2 separate regions of the Homo sapiens genome follow, and region 1 is linked to region 2. The links come from fine-mapping of genetic effects on gene expression. Tissue or cell type: whole blood. Region 2 holds a variant in brackets; the other region holds the start of a gene. All regions are shown on one strand. Distances are between the middles of the regions.

What was found. PIP is the estimated chance that this variant, and not a neighbour inherited with it, causes the effect.
Region 1: it holds the start of MAP1LC3A, and the variant in region 2 is fine-mapped to the expression of MAP1LC3A in whole blood (TOPMed, PIP above 0.99).

The regions. Positions count from the first base shown.
Region 1 is chr20:34,554,432-34,562,704 of GRCh38, forward strand. It overlaps MAP1LC3A (microtubule associated protein 1 light chain 3 alpha), which reads left to right and starts at 4,287. Exons shown (of 4, transcript NM_032514.4): 1 at 4,287-4,477; 2 at 4,777-4,832; 3 at 4,916-5,022; 4 at 5,305-5,914. The coding sequence starts at 4,438. The coding sequence ends at 5,467. PIGU (phosphatidylinositol glycan anchor biosynthesis class U) reads right to left here. Exons shown (of 12, transcript NM_080476.5): 12 at 6,111-6,548. The coding sequence ends at 6,435. RefSeq lists silencers at 3,989-4,078, 4,419-4,468, 6,043-6,092.
Region 2 is chr20:34,619,115-34,627,387 of GRCh38, forward strand. All of the region lies in intron 6 of PIGU (phosphatidylinositol glycan anchor biosynthesis class U), which reads right to left. Among named protein-coding and RNA genes, the nearest start is that of PIGU, 54 kb to the right of the region's middle. The variant G/A (reference allele first, on the strand shown) is at 5,137.

The sequences.
Region 1 (8,273 bases), 65 kb before region 2:
GGCGCGATCTCGGTTCACTGCAACCTCCGCCTCCCAGGTTCAAGTGATTCTCCTGCCTCAGCCTCCCAAGTAGCTGGGACTACAGGCATGCACCACCACGCCCAGCTAATTTTTGTATTTTTAGTAGAGACGGGGTTTCACCATGTTGGCCAGGATGGTCTCAATCTCTTAACCTCATGATCCGCCTGCCTTGGCCGCCCAAAGTGCTGGGATTACAGGCATGAGACACCGCGCCCGGCCTGTTTTTGTTTTTTGAGATGGGGTCTCTCGCTCTGTCGCCAGGCTGGAGTGTAGTGACACAATCTTGGCTCACTACAACCTCCACCTCCCTGGTTCAAGCAATTCTCATGCCTCAGCCTCCCACGTAGCTGGACTACAGACACGTGCCACCATACCCAGCTAATTTTTTTGTATTTTGTAATTTTTGTATTTTGTATTTTTTGTATTTTTTTTTTTTGTAGAGATGGGGTTTCACCATATTGCCCAGGCTGGTCTACAACTCCTGGACTCAAGTGATCTGCCTGCCTTGGCCTCCCCAAGTGCTGTGATTACAGGTGTGGGCCACCACACCTGGCCTATTTTTTGTTGTTGTTGTTTTTTGTTTGTTTTCAGCATTTTTTGTTGTTTTTCTGAGAAAGGGCCTCTGTCACTCAAACGATCCTTCCTGAGTAGTTGGGACTATAGGTGTGTGCCACCAAAGCCAGCGAATTTTCTTATTTTTTTTTTTTTTTGAGACAGAGTCTCACTCTTGTCACGCAGGCTGGAGTGCAGTGGCATGATCTTGGCTCACTGAAACCTCTGCCTCCCGGATTCAAGCAATTCTTGTGCCTCAGCCTCCCAAGTAGCTGAGATTACAGAATGCACCACCACACCCAGCTAACTTCTGTATTTTTAGTAGAGACAGGGTTTTGCCATGTTGGCCAGGCTGGTCTCGAACTCCTGGCCTCAAGTGATCTGCCCACCTCAGCCTCCCAAAGTGTTGGGATTACAGGCGTGAGCCACTGTGCCTGGCCTAATTTTCTCATTTTTGTAGAGACGGGGTCTCACTATGTGGCCCAGGCTGGTCTCAAACTTCTGGGCTCAAATGATTTTCCAACCTGGGCCTCCCAAAGTGCTAGGATTACACTATTACTCCTTCTTAAATTTCTTTGAAACTCTGCTCATGGATTTTCTGTATTTATTATCTAAGTAATACATCTATGTAATAAGGCTATAAATCTGATTTTTTTTTTTTTTAAAGAAATGGATCTTATTTTGTCACCGAGGCTGGAATGCAGAGCTGCAATCACAGCTCACTGCAGCCTTGAACTCTTGGGCTCAAGCAATTCTCCAGTCTGGGCCCCCCAAAGTGCTGGGATTACAGGTATGAACCACCACACCTGGCCTGCCATGGCCCCCCTCCCAAGTTTTCTTTCTTTTTTTTTTTTTTTTGATGGAGTCTCGCTCTGTCGCCCAGGCTGGAGTGCAGTGGCGCGATCTCCATTTACTGCAAGCTCCGCCTCCCAGGTTCGAGCCATTCTCCTGCCTCAGCCTCCCGAGTAGCTGGAACTACAGGCGCCCGCCACCACGCCCAGCTAATTTTTTGTATTTTTAGTAGAGACGGGGTTTCACCATGTTAGCCAGGATGGTCTCGATCTCCTGACCTCGTGATCCGCCTGCCTTGGCCTCCCAAAGTGCTGGGATTACAGGCGTGAGCCACTGCGCCCGGCCACCAAGTTTTCTTAGCATATGTATCCTCATTTTTTGTTTGAACTAAATAATTTTTATTTATATATGACTTCATATTTAGAATAGGTTTAAATTTCCACACAGCTGGAGCTTACGCGGCTTTTGTCTGTGGCCAAAGAATATGGTTGAAACTGATTTGATATCTGTTGAGATTTGTCGTGCACCCTAGTAGTTGGGTCATTTTTGTAAATGTTCCTTGTGTGATTGAAAATAATGTGTTGGTCTCACACAGGTCTGAAATTTAAATTTTAAAAGTTAAAAAACTAACTGTCAGGTTTTCTATTGGGGTTCATTGATCTTGATTAGTAACTGTATTAACATCCTCTATGTCCTTTTTTTTTTGGTTGTTTGGTTTATTAGTTACTCAAAGAGGTCTTATGTCTCCCTATGATGGAGGACCTGGCAATTTCTCCTTGTGTTCTTAATATATTTTCAGCCTCTTTTTTTTTTTTTTCGAGACAGAGTCTCACTCTGTTGCCCAGGCTGGAGGGCAGTGGCGCAATCTCAGCTCACTGCAACCTCCGCCTAGCAGGTTCAAGCAATTCTTGTGCCTCAGCCACCTGAGTAGTTGGGATGACAGGCGTGCACCACCACGCCCAGCTAGCTAATCTTTGTATTTTTAGTAGAGACAGAGTTTTGCCATGTTGGCCAGGCTGGTCTTGAATTCCCAGCCTCTAGTGATCCACCCACCTCGGCCTCCCAAAGTGCTGGGATTACTGGCATGAGCCACTGCGCCTGGCCTATTTTCAGCCTTAAAAACAAAAACCCTGGAACATAGAAGTTCAGAACTTTCCTCTCTTCACAGAGTTCCTCCTCGCATCATTTCATGTTGATCCTCTTATCCCCAGTGTCTTCTGCCTGAAGGCCTATTTTGTCTGAGTTTTCTATAGGTACATCTTTTGGTTAGTTTTTCTCTAGTACACCTTTTCCCATCGTTTTACTTTTTGGTGCCCTTAGGTTTTAAATTTCCTCTTGTAAATAGCATAGAGCTGCATCTTATTTTTTCTTGGCCAATCTGGTCATCTGTGTTTTAAGAGGTGAATGTAAACCACATTTTCTACCTCTGGTTTTGTACTATATATTTACCATCCCTTTTACTTTGCTTCCTTTTTCTCCCTTTCTGCCTTCCATTATAGTTTTAATACCCATCACTACCCTTTTCTCTGCATTGGCAGTTATAGTTCCGTTTGTATTCTTTTGGTGATCCTCTTAAATATCTGAAATACACACCTGACTTTACAAAGCCAGACAATGCTCAGTCTCTTTAACCCCCTCTCAAATTGCCCTCTCAGTCTTCCATGTTCTTGTGTCTCATGCATCTTGTTTCTGTGGCCCACAAATTAATCATTATTATTCATATTGCATATTAAATGCTTGTTTAGATTCACATGTTTACCAATTTGCTCACCATTTTTCCATCTAATTTCTTCCTTTTGGGTTCCATGTCCTTGTTACTAAACTACATTCTTTAAAAATTATTTCGGCGGCCAGGCGTGGTGGCTCACACCTGTAATCCCAGCACTTTGGGAGGCCGAGGCGAGTGGATCACGAGGTCAGGAGATCGAGACCATCCTGGCCAACATGGTGAAACTCCATCTCTACTAAAAATACAATAATTAGCTGGGGGTGGTGGCAGGCGCCTGTAATCCCAGCTACTGAGGAGGCTGACTGAGGCAGGAGAATCGCTTGAACCCGGGAGGCAGAGGTTGCAGTGAGCTGAGATCGCACCACTGCACCCCAGCCTGGCGACAGAACGAGACTTCGTCCCCCTCCCCCCTCCCCCAAAAAAATGTTGATCTTCAGTCTGCGCATTCTGCTCTGGATTTTAAGCATCATTTCTGGCAGCTCTTTTTCAGGAACTGTCTCTGCAGGTCTTTCAGTGTTCGCCTCTGGAGCTCTGCTCGGGCCCGCGAGTTCTCCTGGCGTTGCCATCTGTGCCCTTTTCCTTATTCCCCATCACCTGTCTCTCTGGTGAGCTGCTTCCGATCAGCCTCCAGGTCCACGATTTCTCTTCTGTTGTCCTTTTCTGCCTTCTCACCTCATCCTCTGAGACCTGAATTTCGATGGCTCTACTTTTCAATTATATTATTCTTTTTCAAACCTGGGCGTTCATTTCTAGCATCCTGTTCTATCCTGTGTCTGACTGTGCCTCCCGCACCTTCTCCCTTCTCTCGCCCTAAGCCCCGTGAAGGCGCCGGGCCTTTGGCTCCGGCTGTTTCCCACGGCGCCCAGAACCGCGTCAGTCCTGACACAGACTCGGTGAGGGCGGGAAGTGGTGCCGTGGGGCTGCAGCCTGGCCCGCCCGCTCCATCGGCCTAGGGCGGCCCCACCGCCCTCCGGGCCTTACCTTGAGTTCGGGCTGCGGGAGAAGCTCCCGCGCTGCCCATGACGTCACGGGACTGTGACGCGCCCAGAAGCCCCGCCCCTCGCGTCCCGGTCCGCGGACCCAGGCTCTCTGCGCCGTGACGTCACGGGTCCGGGCGGGCGGGTTGTGCGTCGGCCCAATGGGAGCGGCGCACTGGCCTCCCCTTTAAGGAATGTTGTGACCTGACGTCACCGGGCGAGTTACCTCCCGCAGCCGCAGCCGCCGTGCTCAGCGCGAGCCCCGGAGCCCTTGAGCGCGAGGCGCGGAGCCCCCGGAGCCCCCAAACCGCAGACACATCCCCGCGCCCCAGAGCCCCGGCCTGCGCGCCCAGCCGGGCCCGCGCGATGCCCTCAGACCGGCCTTTCAAGCAGCGGCGGAGCTTCGGTGAGGCCCGGCAGGCGAGCTGCGAGCTCTGGGGCAGGGGTGCCGGCCGACCCCGACTGCCGCAGGTGACGTCAGCCCCGTGACGTCAGGCTCTGGCTGGACCCTCGGGCTGGGACCAGCTCCGGCCTGGGCGGGGGCTGCCCGCTTCCCCACCGCGATAGGTGCCAGGGGCTGTGGGGCCTGATGGCCCCGGGGGTGGGGGCTGGAGCTGGGGCGTGGCCGGGGGCCGCCCCTCCGGGACAGGCGGGGCGGACCTGGGCCGGCCCGACCCGGCCTCACGGTCTGGCCGCTGTCCGCAGCCGACCGCTGTAAGGAGGTACAGCAGATCCGCGACCAGCACCCCAGCAAAATCCCGGTGAGTCCCGCACCCCCAGCCCTGCCCCGCCCCCGCCTCGCGCGTTCCCGACACGACCCCCTGCCCGCCCGCCCTGCTCCCAGGTGATCATCGAGCGCTACAAGGGTGAGAAGCAGCTGCCCGTCCTGGACAAGACCAAGTTTTTGGTCCCGGACCATGTCAACATGAGCGAGTTGGTCAAGATCATCCGGTGCGTGGGCAGCCGCCGCCAGGAGGTGGCTAGGGTCGGGAGGGGAGCCGGGTTCCCGCCGAGAAGGGGTGGGAGTGGGGTCAGGGGTGATGGGACCGGGCGGTGGGCCCCTGTTCTGGGGTGGCTGGAAAGGTCAAGGTCGGGGCTGCAGTCGGTGTTGGGTCAGAGGTGACAGCTGGGGTGAGAATGGGTGTGAAAGGCTGGGAATCATTCTGGGGGTCAGGGCTATGTCCGTCCCGCAGCCAAGCCCCTCACAGCTGCATACTCTCCCGCCGGCTGCAGGCGCCGCCTGCAGCTGAACCCCACGCAGGCCTTCTTCCTGCTGGTGAACCAGCACAGCATGGTGAGTGTGTCCACGCCCATCGCGGACATCTACGAGCAGGAGAAAGACGAGGACGGCTTCCTCTATATGGTCTACGCCTCCCAGGAAACCTTCGGCTTCTGAGCCAGCAGTAGGGGGGCTCGGCCTGGGAGTCGGGCGGCCCCGGTCAGGCCCTGCCCAGAGAGCTCCTGGTTCCTGAACTGAGCTGCCTCTACCGTGGTGGGCTGGGCAGGCATGTGCCCCCCTAGTCAGAGGGCACCAACCCACCTACTCTGCCCCTGGGTGGATCCTGGGCCGGTCGTGTTAGGGTTGTCCCTCTGGGTGCTGGCTGGTGGGATGGGGGAGGGTGGGGAGCAGCTCCCAGCACCCCTGCTGTGTGGTTCATCTTTTTTTTAGGCCCCTGCCTGTCTGCCCATCTGCCCCTCACCCACCCGAGGCTCTGCCCACCGCCTGGACCTGCCCACCCCTGAAAGACTGGCCCCTGGCTCCCCGCCCCTCGGTCTCCACGTGGTGTATGGATCTGTGGTCATTGTCCCTCTGCAGAATAAAGATTGCTCAGGCCTGCCTGGCCCTGTGCCTCCAGCCGCTTGCTTGGGAGTGGGGAGGGTGCTGGTGGGGCTGCCCGCACCATCCCCGGGCTCTGGCGCACAGACTTGTGTTCTGTGGCCGCGGTGCTCGCTCTGGAAACCCACACCTGTGTGTAGTGTTCCAGAACATTATTAGGGGCCACCCCCTCTAGGAGTGCAATGCAGATGTGGTCTCAGGGTAGACTTCATAACAAAAAACATTTATTAAGTAGCCACAATCTAACAAGCCCTGCTCACCTGCCTCTTCTCCTTCCTGTCTGGGAGGGGGCTCCTTGGTGTGCAGAGCCACAAGGTGGGGGTCCAAGTTGGGGAGCTCCCAGTTCTTCCCCATAGGCCTTGCTGTCAGTCAGCCATGGGTCCCTTTTGGTACCAGAGACTTGTGACCCTGGACTCGAACCTCTTCTGCCCAAGCACTCGCCTGCTGGCAACTCTGGCTGGAGGGCTTGGCCCAGCTTCTGGCCCCACAGCCCCCTGAGGTCCATGCAGCCCTGTGCCAGCCAGGCCTACTTGAGCACGAGCATGGCCTCTGTGCCATCCTTGGCGGTCAAGTAGAGGCCATGTGTGAGGTAGTACTCCCGCCGCAGGAAGGCATAGAAGTAATCAGAGATGAGCAGGATCTGGGGGGAGAGAGAGGGTGTGAGGCGCTGCTGGGTACCTCCCCCTAAACCCAGGATCCCTGAACTGCTGGCAGGTGTTGTTGGAAGACAGGAACGCCCCTGCCTGGCTCTGGATCACAATCACTGGAGAGGCCCTCCTCAGGGCCCCCACCTCAGGGCCCATAATTGACCCTGCAAGGTCTGGCCTCTCAGAAGCTGCCTGGACTCCCCCTGCCCCCACCCATGGTCTACACCTCCATCCCAGGCTCTGGCCTCGAATGCCAGCCTGGTGCCTGTGCAACCAGAGGCCTCTGCCCCATCCTCCCACAGCCACTTCCATCCCAGCCAGGTCCACATCAAACTCCTCACCTTCCCTCTGTCAAATACACTTCTCCCACTCAGCATCCATGCCCCCATCTTCCAGCCAGGTGCCCAGGCCACAAAATTGCCCTGACACTTCTCTCATACATCGAGCCACCATGACCTGTCAATTCCCCCTAAACTCAAATCCACCCTTTGGATCCATCCCCACAGTCACTACTCTGGACAGAGCCACTGTCATCTCATCTCCTAAACAACAGCAAAGCTTGGTCCTTGGGCTCCCTGCTCTCAAACCCGTGCCCACCCCATTCTCCCTGGCAGCCAGAGGGAGCTTTTCAAAACCCACATCTGATGGTGTTACTTCCAGCCTTCAAATCCTCCAAAGGCTTCCCAAGCCTTAGGGCAAAGCTCGAACTCCCTCGTGCTCTGAGACCTTGCTAGGGTCCCTGTCCGCCCTCTCCCGGCTCCACCTCACCCCACGGCAGGATCTTTACTGTTTCTTCTGCCTGGAATGTTCTCTCCCCGTTCATCTAGTTGACAGCTGCTTACTCTTCAGGGCTCAGGAAGGATCACTTGCCCCCCAGATTAGTTCTTGGCCCCACTAATCTCTACTCGATAACAGACTCATCGAAAGTGTAATTTTCCATTCAGCTGACAGCCTGACTGTGCCTCCTCCCCTGGCCCGGGGCCTCCATCAGGGCAGGGTCTTCGAATGGTTCTGTCACTATGGTATTTCTGTGCCCAGCTCAGTCTGTCTGTCCCATTCTGGGCCACACACAGAAGAATCAAAGGGAGCCTAGAAGCTCAGCCCACTGTCTCTTCAAGGAGGCCCAGAAAGGAATAGGGATTTGCCAAGGGCCCTATACACCAGACCCGGAGTCTGCAATCCCAGTCAGCCCAAGCTTCCCAAGACCACTGGTCCCTGGAGCAGGTTGGGCAGGGCCCAGCCTCAGAGAAGGATGAGGGGACAGGGGCTCACACTACAGACACCGCAGCTCTCAGGCACCTGGAGGCCTCAGAGGATTGGCACCAACCACCTGGCACAGATGGGGAGACTGAGGCACAGAGCACTTGGCTATGGTCTTGGGGCAAGACAGGTTGAGCTAAGCCTGGGATCTAGACCTCCAGACCCTGTCCTGGGCAGCTTCTCACTGACCTGAAGGTAACACAACAGCAGCTAAGGAGAGATCAGAGGCGCCTGGAGGAGTTCAGGAAGGTGTCCTGTCACCAGCAGCTCTGATGGCCTCAGGACAAGTACCTGCCATTCTATCACCACAGAAGCCCATCTGGAAGGTTGAACAATCCTCATCTTAAACAGATGGGGAAACTGAGACTCAAAGGGTTCAATGGTTGGCCTAAGGCTACACCTGGAGCACTGGACTAATGGCCATGGACCCAGAAAGGTGGTCTGCCTGGGGCCCAGAT
Region 2 (8,273 bases):
AGAGAGAAGCTAGAAGTAATAGGACAGAATTCTATGGGAAGGGGGGCTGTCTCGCCATATTGACAGTGCCAGTCATGATGTCCTGTATCCAGGGTACTCATAAATATGACTGTGTAGGAACAGGATCACGCCCAGCTAAGCTGTGACACCAGCAGTGGCAAGCACACATCTGCTGAGCCACAGACTCTAAACTCAGAACCAGGTCACTCTGGGATAGGGCAGTGGCAGTAGTAGGAAAGGTGCTGTTCTGGAGCCCAACAGCTAGGGTGGGCTAGGGATTGATTCTTTGATTGGGTCAAAAATCTGAATGATTTTTTGGTGGGAAACTGGCCAAGAGAGGGAAAACACTGAAAATAACTTTTTAACTTAACCTGGTTCTCTACGGATTGAAAGCAGGCGAGAGAAGAGGCCCATGTGTCTGTTACTAGAGGATGGAGGCTAATGCTCCAACTCCATCCATTCCTATAGCATGGTGAAAACAAACACATGACTTTCTCCTGTCTCTCCCAGAGGAGACACAAGGAGTGAAATCAACACAGCCATCTCTTGCCCTAATTGCCTGAGGTTAATAATTGCTTGTCTGAAACTGACTGTTTATGAGGCCCAAGAGAGAAAAAGAGGCTCACAGCCTAGCCAAATGGACTTGTGAGTTTTAGAATACTTGCTCCTAGGATCAGGAAGAAGCAGTCTTCCTTCCATAGACTGAAGTAGTCTTTGGGAAGGAAAAATCTGTTCCTCCTGCTATTCTTTGTCAGTAACTGGCATCAACATCTAGCCAGATACCCTGGCAACCCTTCACCCTTCAGCTCCCATGTTCTTCCTTCCACCAGTCACCAAGCCCTGTGGATCCACCCCTGGAGCATTTATCCTTTCAGTTCTTGCTCTTGTCATCTCTCTCCAGCAGCTTTTCCCCCTCCTCCTTAGCGGTCTCCCAACCACCTCCCATCCAAGTCCATCTACAGAAGCACCAAAGGAACCTTCTAAAACAGTTTAGATTGTGGCTAGCCAGTCTTTAAAGACTTCTGATGGTTCCATTTCATCTATCAGGTTAAGTCTAAACTCCAACAGCAAACAAGACCCTTCACCACTGGGTCTCATTTCTCCAGTTTCACCTCTCACCACTCTTCCACACACGCCCTGTCCTCCAGCTACACTGGACTATTCCCAATTTCTGAAAACATCATGCTGTTTCATTCTTCTGTGTCTGTTCTTAGGCTATTCCTTCTGCCCAAGCCATCCTTCTCTGCCCGCTTTCTAGTAGAAAGCATTCGTTTGATAGCCAGGTGAAAGGTCACTTTGTCTATGAGCCCAAGCAAAGGTGGTAACAACCGTTGATTATAGTTGACATTTATGGATCACTTGCTAGGTGCCAGGCACTGTACTGTATCCTCTGCATCAAGAACAGTTCCTGACTTGGACAGGCGCGGTGGCTCATGCCTGTAATCCCAGCACTTTGGGAGGCTGAGGCGGGCGGATCACGAGGTCGGGAGATCGAGACCATCCTGACTAACACGGTGAAACCCTGTTTCTACTAAAAATACAAAAAATTAGCCGGGCATGGTGGTGGGAGCCTATAGTCCCAGCTACTCGGGAGGCTGAGGCAGGAGAATGGCGTGAACCCGGGAGGCAGAGCTTGCAGTGAGCCGAGATCGCGCCACTGCACGCGACACAGCAAGACTCCACCTAAAAAAAAACAAAAAAAAAACAAAAAAAAAAAAACAAAAAAAACAGTTCCTGACTCAAAAAGGTCCTCAGGAAACATCACAACAGCCCTGTGAAAGCTCTATTTCTGCTTCTTAGAACAGCTTTACTGAGATAAAAACCACACATTCTACCCATTTTACAGGTCAAGAAATCAAGACAGAAACAGAAAGCTTCAGTAATGTGACCAAAACCACATAGCTGACTCCGGTACCCACTCTTAATCCCTGTGTTAATAAGCCTAATACTGATGCTATCTTATAATAATCTGCATATGTTTCTCTCTCTCCCCATTTCTCTGTGAGTTTCTCAAGGGCAACACATTTATCTTAACTTTGGCTCTCCAGCACCTAGTACAGTTCCTGGCACATGTGATAAATGAACAAATGAAGAAATGAATGAATGAATATCATTCAGCAATACATATGAAATCCTTTTTAAAAATATGAGAATATTAAAGGAAACCAATGTTCTTGAGGAAGAAAAACTTATGAAGTGTAATACACAGAGTCATGAACACAGGCAAAGCACAAAATAAATCTAACTCAAATAAAGCAGAGCCTGAAGAATAGTGGTTGAGGGTTTGTTGTGGCAGAGGGCTGGCACAGAGAATGCTCTCTGTGGAGTAAACTATTGCATGGCTGAGGCCTGCAGTCTGGGGGCAGAAACACAGTGCTGCAACAGTCAGTAGGTTGGTGTGTGGGAAGTCTGAGTGTGGGATGCTGGGACAGGTGTGGACAGGGCGGACGCACAGCCGGAGCAAAAGTGAGGGTGAGTATGGAGGCAGGCAGGAGACTCAGAAAGGGCTATGTGTTTTGAAAAAAGCTTGAAGGGGTAAAAAGGAGTTAGGAAGGCAGAGGAGGAATGATATGTGCTTGGGGCAGAGTCAGAGAAGATCAAGGAAAGTGAGAAGTGACTTCAAATATTTTAAACAAACTGTGCAATAAGCAAACATTTCTGGAGTTTGCTCTATACGAAGAGTGTGATGGGTGCCAGGAAACCTGGTGACTCAGATAGTCTCTGTCCTCAGGGAGCTCCCAGTAAACAATTACAAAATACAGGAGGAAAGTACAAAGGAAGCAGACCTAGCCCATCAGGGGAAGCTGACACCTGAGTTTTGAACAATGAGTAGGTGAGGCTGGGCAGTCCAAGGCTGTGCACAGGTTGGAGGGCAAGAGAGAATGGTGTGCTGGGGTGGGGCTGTGTGTACTGTAATTAGCTCAATATAGCCAAAACAGGGCAAGAGCTGGGAGGAGTGACAGGAAAGAGAACACAAAAGGGGCTCCCGTGGATGCTGGTACCACTCTTCCTTAATCTGGGTGCTGGTTACTCAACGTTTCGTGAAAATTCACGTATCTGTACACTAATGAGTTATACATTTTTCCGTATATATGTCATACTTCAATAAAAAGTTACAATCCGGCTGGGCGTGGTGGCTCACCCCTGTAATCTCAGCACTTTGGGAGGCCGAGGAGGGTGGATCACAAGGTCAGGAGTTCGAGACCAGCCTGGCCAATATGGTGAAGCCCCATCTCTACTAAAAATACAAAAATTAGCCGGATGTGGTGGCGGGCGCATGTAGTCCCAGCTATTCGGGAGGCTGAGGCAGGAGAATCTCTTGAACCTGAGAGGTGGAGGTTGCAGTGAGCCGAGATCACGCCACTGCACTCCAGCCTGGGAGACACAGCAAGAGTCCGTCTCAAAAAAAACAAAAACAAAAAAAAAGTTACAATCCAAAAAGTCTCAGCAAGCAGGTAGGAGTCAGATCACGGAGGGCTAAGCTTGCACAGTCATCCAAAAACATCTACCTACAGGCCCAGACAGGATACCTGAAATCATGTCTGAAATGGCAGCCTCATGTGGGCAAGAGCTAGGGCATCACGCTGGCCTAACCAGAAGGAACTGTGCCAAGAGGACTAAGAGTTTTACCCCAAAATGATATAACCTACCATTTGCTAGGGCAGCCCAGATGCACAGGCACTAGGCTTTCTATATAAGCCTTGATATTTAGCCTTATCCTAGGGATATTAGAGTAAATCAGTCAAATGTGTATGTACATTGGCTGTAGTATCAGGAAATTTCATTATCTACTCAATCTAGCTTTGAATATGTTATGTTTTCTAACTCTCTATTTGTGTCAGGGTGGGGGCCAAAAGCCTCAGCAAGACCGGGGGTAATACTTTGCCTCCAGGGACTGCACCTCACAGCGATCTGGGCCTGGGTGGGTGGCACAGCTACAGGAGTGAGCAGGAATGTAATGAGGTGGGGCCATGGGGACTGGTTCAGGACAGGGACTTCAAGTGGAGTAATCAGAGAATAAAGAGATTGGGTCACAGGTGATGATCTATACCAAGACAGGCAGAAACGCACTGGAATGTAGTCAAAAGGGCTCAGGTCCCACAGGACTATCAGAAAAGGAAGTTGCACCAGGGTGTGGGGCAACAAGTGAGACTGCCCAGGAGGAGGAGGAGATCCTGGGGGCAGGGCCAATGTATTACATTCCTTGCCAAGTGTGTTCTTTTAACGGGGCAGCCTCTCTCAGAGCAATCCGTACATATCAGTGATAACGATGATAATTTATTGAGCACTTACTCTGTTCCAGCCATGACTGTAAGCACTTTACTTGCCTTAAGCCATTTAGTCTTCTCAATAATTCCATGAAGTGGGTACAATTACTGTCCCCATTTTACAGATAATGAAACTGAAAGACAGAGAAGTTATTTGTCTGGGGTCACGAAACTAGTGAATGAGAGCAATAGGATTTAAACCAAATGGTTTTACTTCAGACCCCATGTTCTGACTGCATCACTGGGCCACCCTCTTGATCTCAATCAAGCACCATAAAAATAACAATAGGCAGAGCAACTAGTTATTGAGTGGATTCTGCTAAGGAAGCACGCTAAGCATTTTATATTTCTTATTTATTCCTCCACTATCTCTAGGAGGTAGATATTCTGGGATCAAACTGAGGCTCTTGAGGCTGCATGATTTGCTCAAGGCTACAGAGCTGGTAATTAGAATAAGCAGGCTTTGAAGTTGGGTTGACCTGACAAAAACTGAGTCCTTGAGTCCTCTATGACTCCTTCCATTGGCAGGGCTTTGGCCTACAGGAACCTCAACTCGAAGTGATGGGATCACCAGGCCTCAGGATCATCACTCTTCCATTGTTCCTCTAAGGCTAGGCTCCAGGAAGAGAACCTCATTGAAACCTCCCAGGTCTCCCTATAAGGCCTATAAGGATGCTAACAATCATGAGGTCTCTTTTATTTTTTAATTTTTTTTACATGGTCTCACTCTGTTGCCTAGATTGGAGCTCAGTGACGCGGTCATAGTTCACTACACTCAAACTCCTGGGCTCGAGTGATCTGAGGGATCTTTTAAAAGGGAGGATACTATTAAAAATAGCAACCAATACCATCTGAGCAGTTATTACAC[G/A]CCTCCATACCATTCATTCTTTATATTCACTCTATAAGGCAGACACTCTTTCATCCCCATGCTGCAGATAAGGAAACTGAGGCTTAGAATTGTTAAGTGACTTGCCCAAGGTGATAGAGCCAGGAGACAGTGGAGCTGGGATTAGCCACCAGATCTGTCTAACATGAGAGCAGCCTGGGCTCTTAATCATGCTTGAATACCTTCTGATAGCACTGATCCTTCTTTCTCCTTGGCAAGCAAGTCCTGTCACATGGCCTTTTTTGGTGGCATAAGGAAAGCTGGAAGAACCCTTAGGTGGCAAACTTCAAGAATATCTCGCTGTTGACAAACACCAATGGTGAAAAAGCAGGACCATCTATTAGCATCTGTTTGTCTGTTTTCCTTTTTAAAGCCTAATGAAGACTACTTCCCAAGGAAGGAGTTTTTAATTAGCTCACTGAAAGGCAGAGTACACTTTGCCCAAGCAACAGCCTTCAAAGCGAAACTTAAGCTGCTCCACTAAACTAATATCAACCTGCCCAAAGACCTGTGTTCCCCAGCCAACACTACAATAAGGACATCACAATACAATGGCCCGAGGCTTGTCCTGGCCTGCATCTCTCAGAGTGTCCCAGGCAACCCTGGGCTGCCACAAAGGAAGCCAGGGGAAAGCAAGCAGCAAGAGTCAAGGGGACAAAGCAAACAAGGTCACTCCCTTCTGTGGTGTATCTGCTCCATGGAAGTCTGGGGAGCATTGCTAAGTTTACTTCCACTGCCCCTATCGTCTTATCAATCAAGTTAATTTAATTTCGTTTTTAATTATGTACTCACTGAAGAAACTTTGGAAAAAAAACATATGAGGCCGGGCGTGGTGGCTCACGCATGTAATCCCAGCACTTTGGGAGGCCAAGGCGGGTGGATCACCTGAGGTCAGGAGTACAAGACCAGCCTGACCAACATGGAGAAACCCCGTCTCTACTAAAAATGCAAAATTCGGATGTGGTGGCGCATGCCTGTAATCCCAGCTATTCGGGAAACTGAGGCAGGAGAATCACCTGAACCCGGGAGGCAGAGGTTGTGGTGAGCCGAGATTGTGCCATTGCACTCCAGCCTGGGGAACAAGAGCAAAACTCCATCTCAAAAAAAAAAAAAACAAAAAAAAAAAAACTACATATCTATACGAAAAGGAAATAAAACTCACCCATGAACTTAATCTACAGGAACAAGTATTATCCTTTTGGGATCTATTTTCTAACTATTTTTGTTGCTTTAACATAGTTGAGATTCATTAAAATGCTGGGCACAGTGGCTCACACCTGTAAGCCCAGCACTTTGGAAGGCTGAGGCAGGTGGATTGCTTGAGGCTTAGAGTTCAAGACTAGCCTGGACAACAGAGCAAGATATGGTCTTTACAAAAAACCTTTAAAATTCCGAGATTGCACCACTGCACTCCAGCCTGGACAACAGAACAAGACTCTGTCTCAAAAAAAAAAAAAAAGAAAGAAAGAAGGAAAAAAAGAAAGAAAAAAACCCAACTAGGCATGGTGGTGCATGCCTGTCGTCTCAGCTACATGGGAGGATGGGGTGGGAGGATCACTTGAGCCTAGGAGTGTGAAGTTACAGTGAGCTATGACTGTGCCACTGCACTTCAGCCTGAGTGGCCTGGGTGACAGAGTAAGACCCTGTCTCCAAAAAACAAAATTAGATTAAAAAAAATACATATATATAATATATATATATATATACACACATACACAATTTTACATTGTTTAAAAAAACATTTATTTTCATGTAGTTTAAAATTATATTTAAATATCATGTGCATAATATTCTACTACATGGGTAAACCATATTTTACTTAACCACTCCTCTCTAAAGTATTTTCTAATTTTTCCAGTGATTATAAATAATTCTGCGATTAATAACTTTGTACCATAAAGCTTTCTGTCTTTATTTCTGCATTACTTTAGGATAGGTTCTCAAAAGTAGAATAAAAATCAAAACTACAAACATTTTATCCCCAGGTGGATAGTGTTAGAAAAATAAATGAATAAAATTTTTTAAAACTCCAAACTTTTTTTTTTTTTTTTGAGACGGAGCTCCGCTTTTGTTGCCCAGGCTGGAGTGCAATGGCGTGATCTCGGCTCACTGCAACCTCCACCTCCCGGGTTCAAGCGATTCTCCTGCCTCAGCCTCCCGAGTAGTTGGGATTACAGGTGCCCACCACCACGCCCTGCTAATTTTTGTATTTTTAGTAGAGACAGGGTCTCACCATGTTGGCCAGGCTAGTCATGAACTCCTGACCTCGGGTGATCCACCTGCCTCGGCATCCCAAAGTGCTGGGAATTACAGGCGTGAGCCACCGCGCCTGGCCAAAAAAACTCCAAACATTTTAAGACTGCCCATGGTTGTACAAATTTATCAGCCAACTTCCATGTGGGAGAATATCTATTTGATAGAACATTTGCCAGAACTGAGAATTAGCTTCTAAAATCTTTACCAATTTCAGAGGCAAAAAACAAAAAAAGCTTTCAAAAGTTTTTAAATTTCAATTTGCCTTTTCTTTATTAATTATCCATGAGTTGAATATTTTTCCATAATTTTCAGTGATTTATATTCCTTTTCTTGTGAATTTTCTCAAATATTTTCTTTTTTAGGATAAAAAGTAAATTATTCCTTAATTTTATTAAATAATTTTATTAATATTATGTGGTAAAATGTGAACTGTAGAAATATAACTTGCAGAAGTTATAACTGAACTAACTATATTATATATACTGTTAGCAGAGATTACTAAAATACTCAAAGAGCTGGAGTGGTTCAGAGACCTAGCTAAAATAGAACTCTTCAAATATTTTAACAGATTAGAAATGTTGTTTGTGAGGGTCTCTATTTATAGTAGCAAATAATGGAAAACAAATGTCCAACAAAAGAGAAGCGCTGGGATCTCATAACAAATACGCAAGAGGAACTGAAGTGGACATGCAGCAGAGTGATGAAAGACTTCCTTTCCAATTTATAGGTTTGAATTTCTTTTATTCTTACCAAATGCTTAAACTACTTGCAAAATTAAATTTAAATTTAAAGGAAATGACAAATATGTGACCAATGTCAGACATGATTCATATGAAATAAGTGATAAAAGTAAAACAAAATTA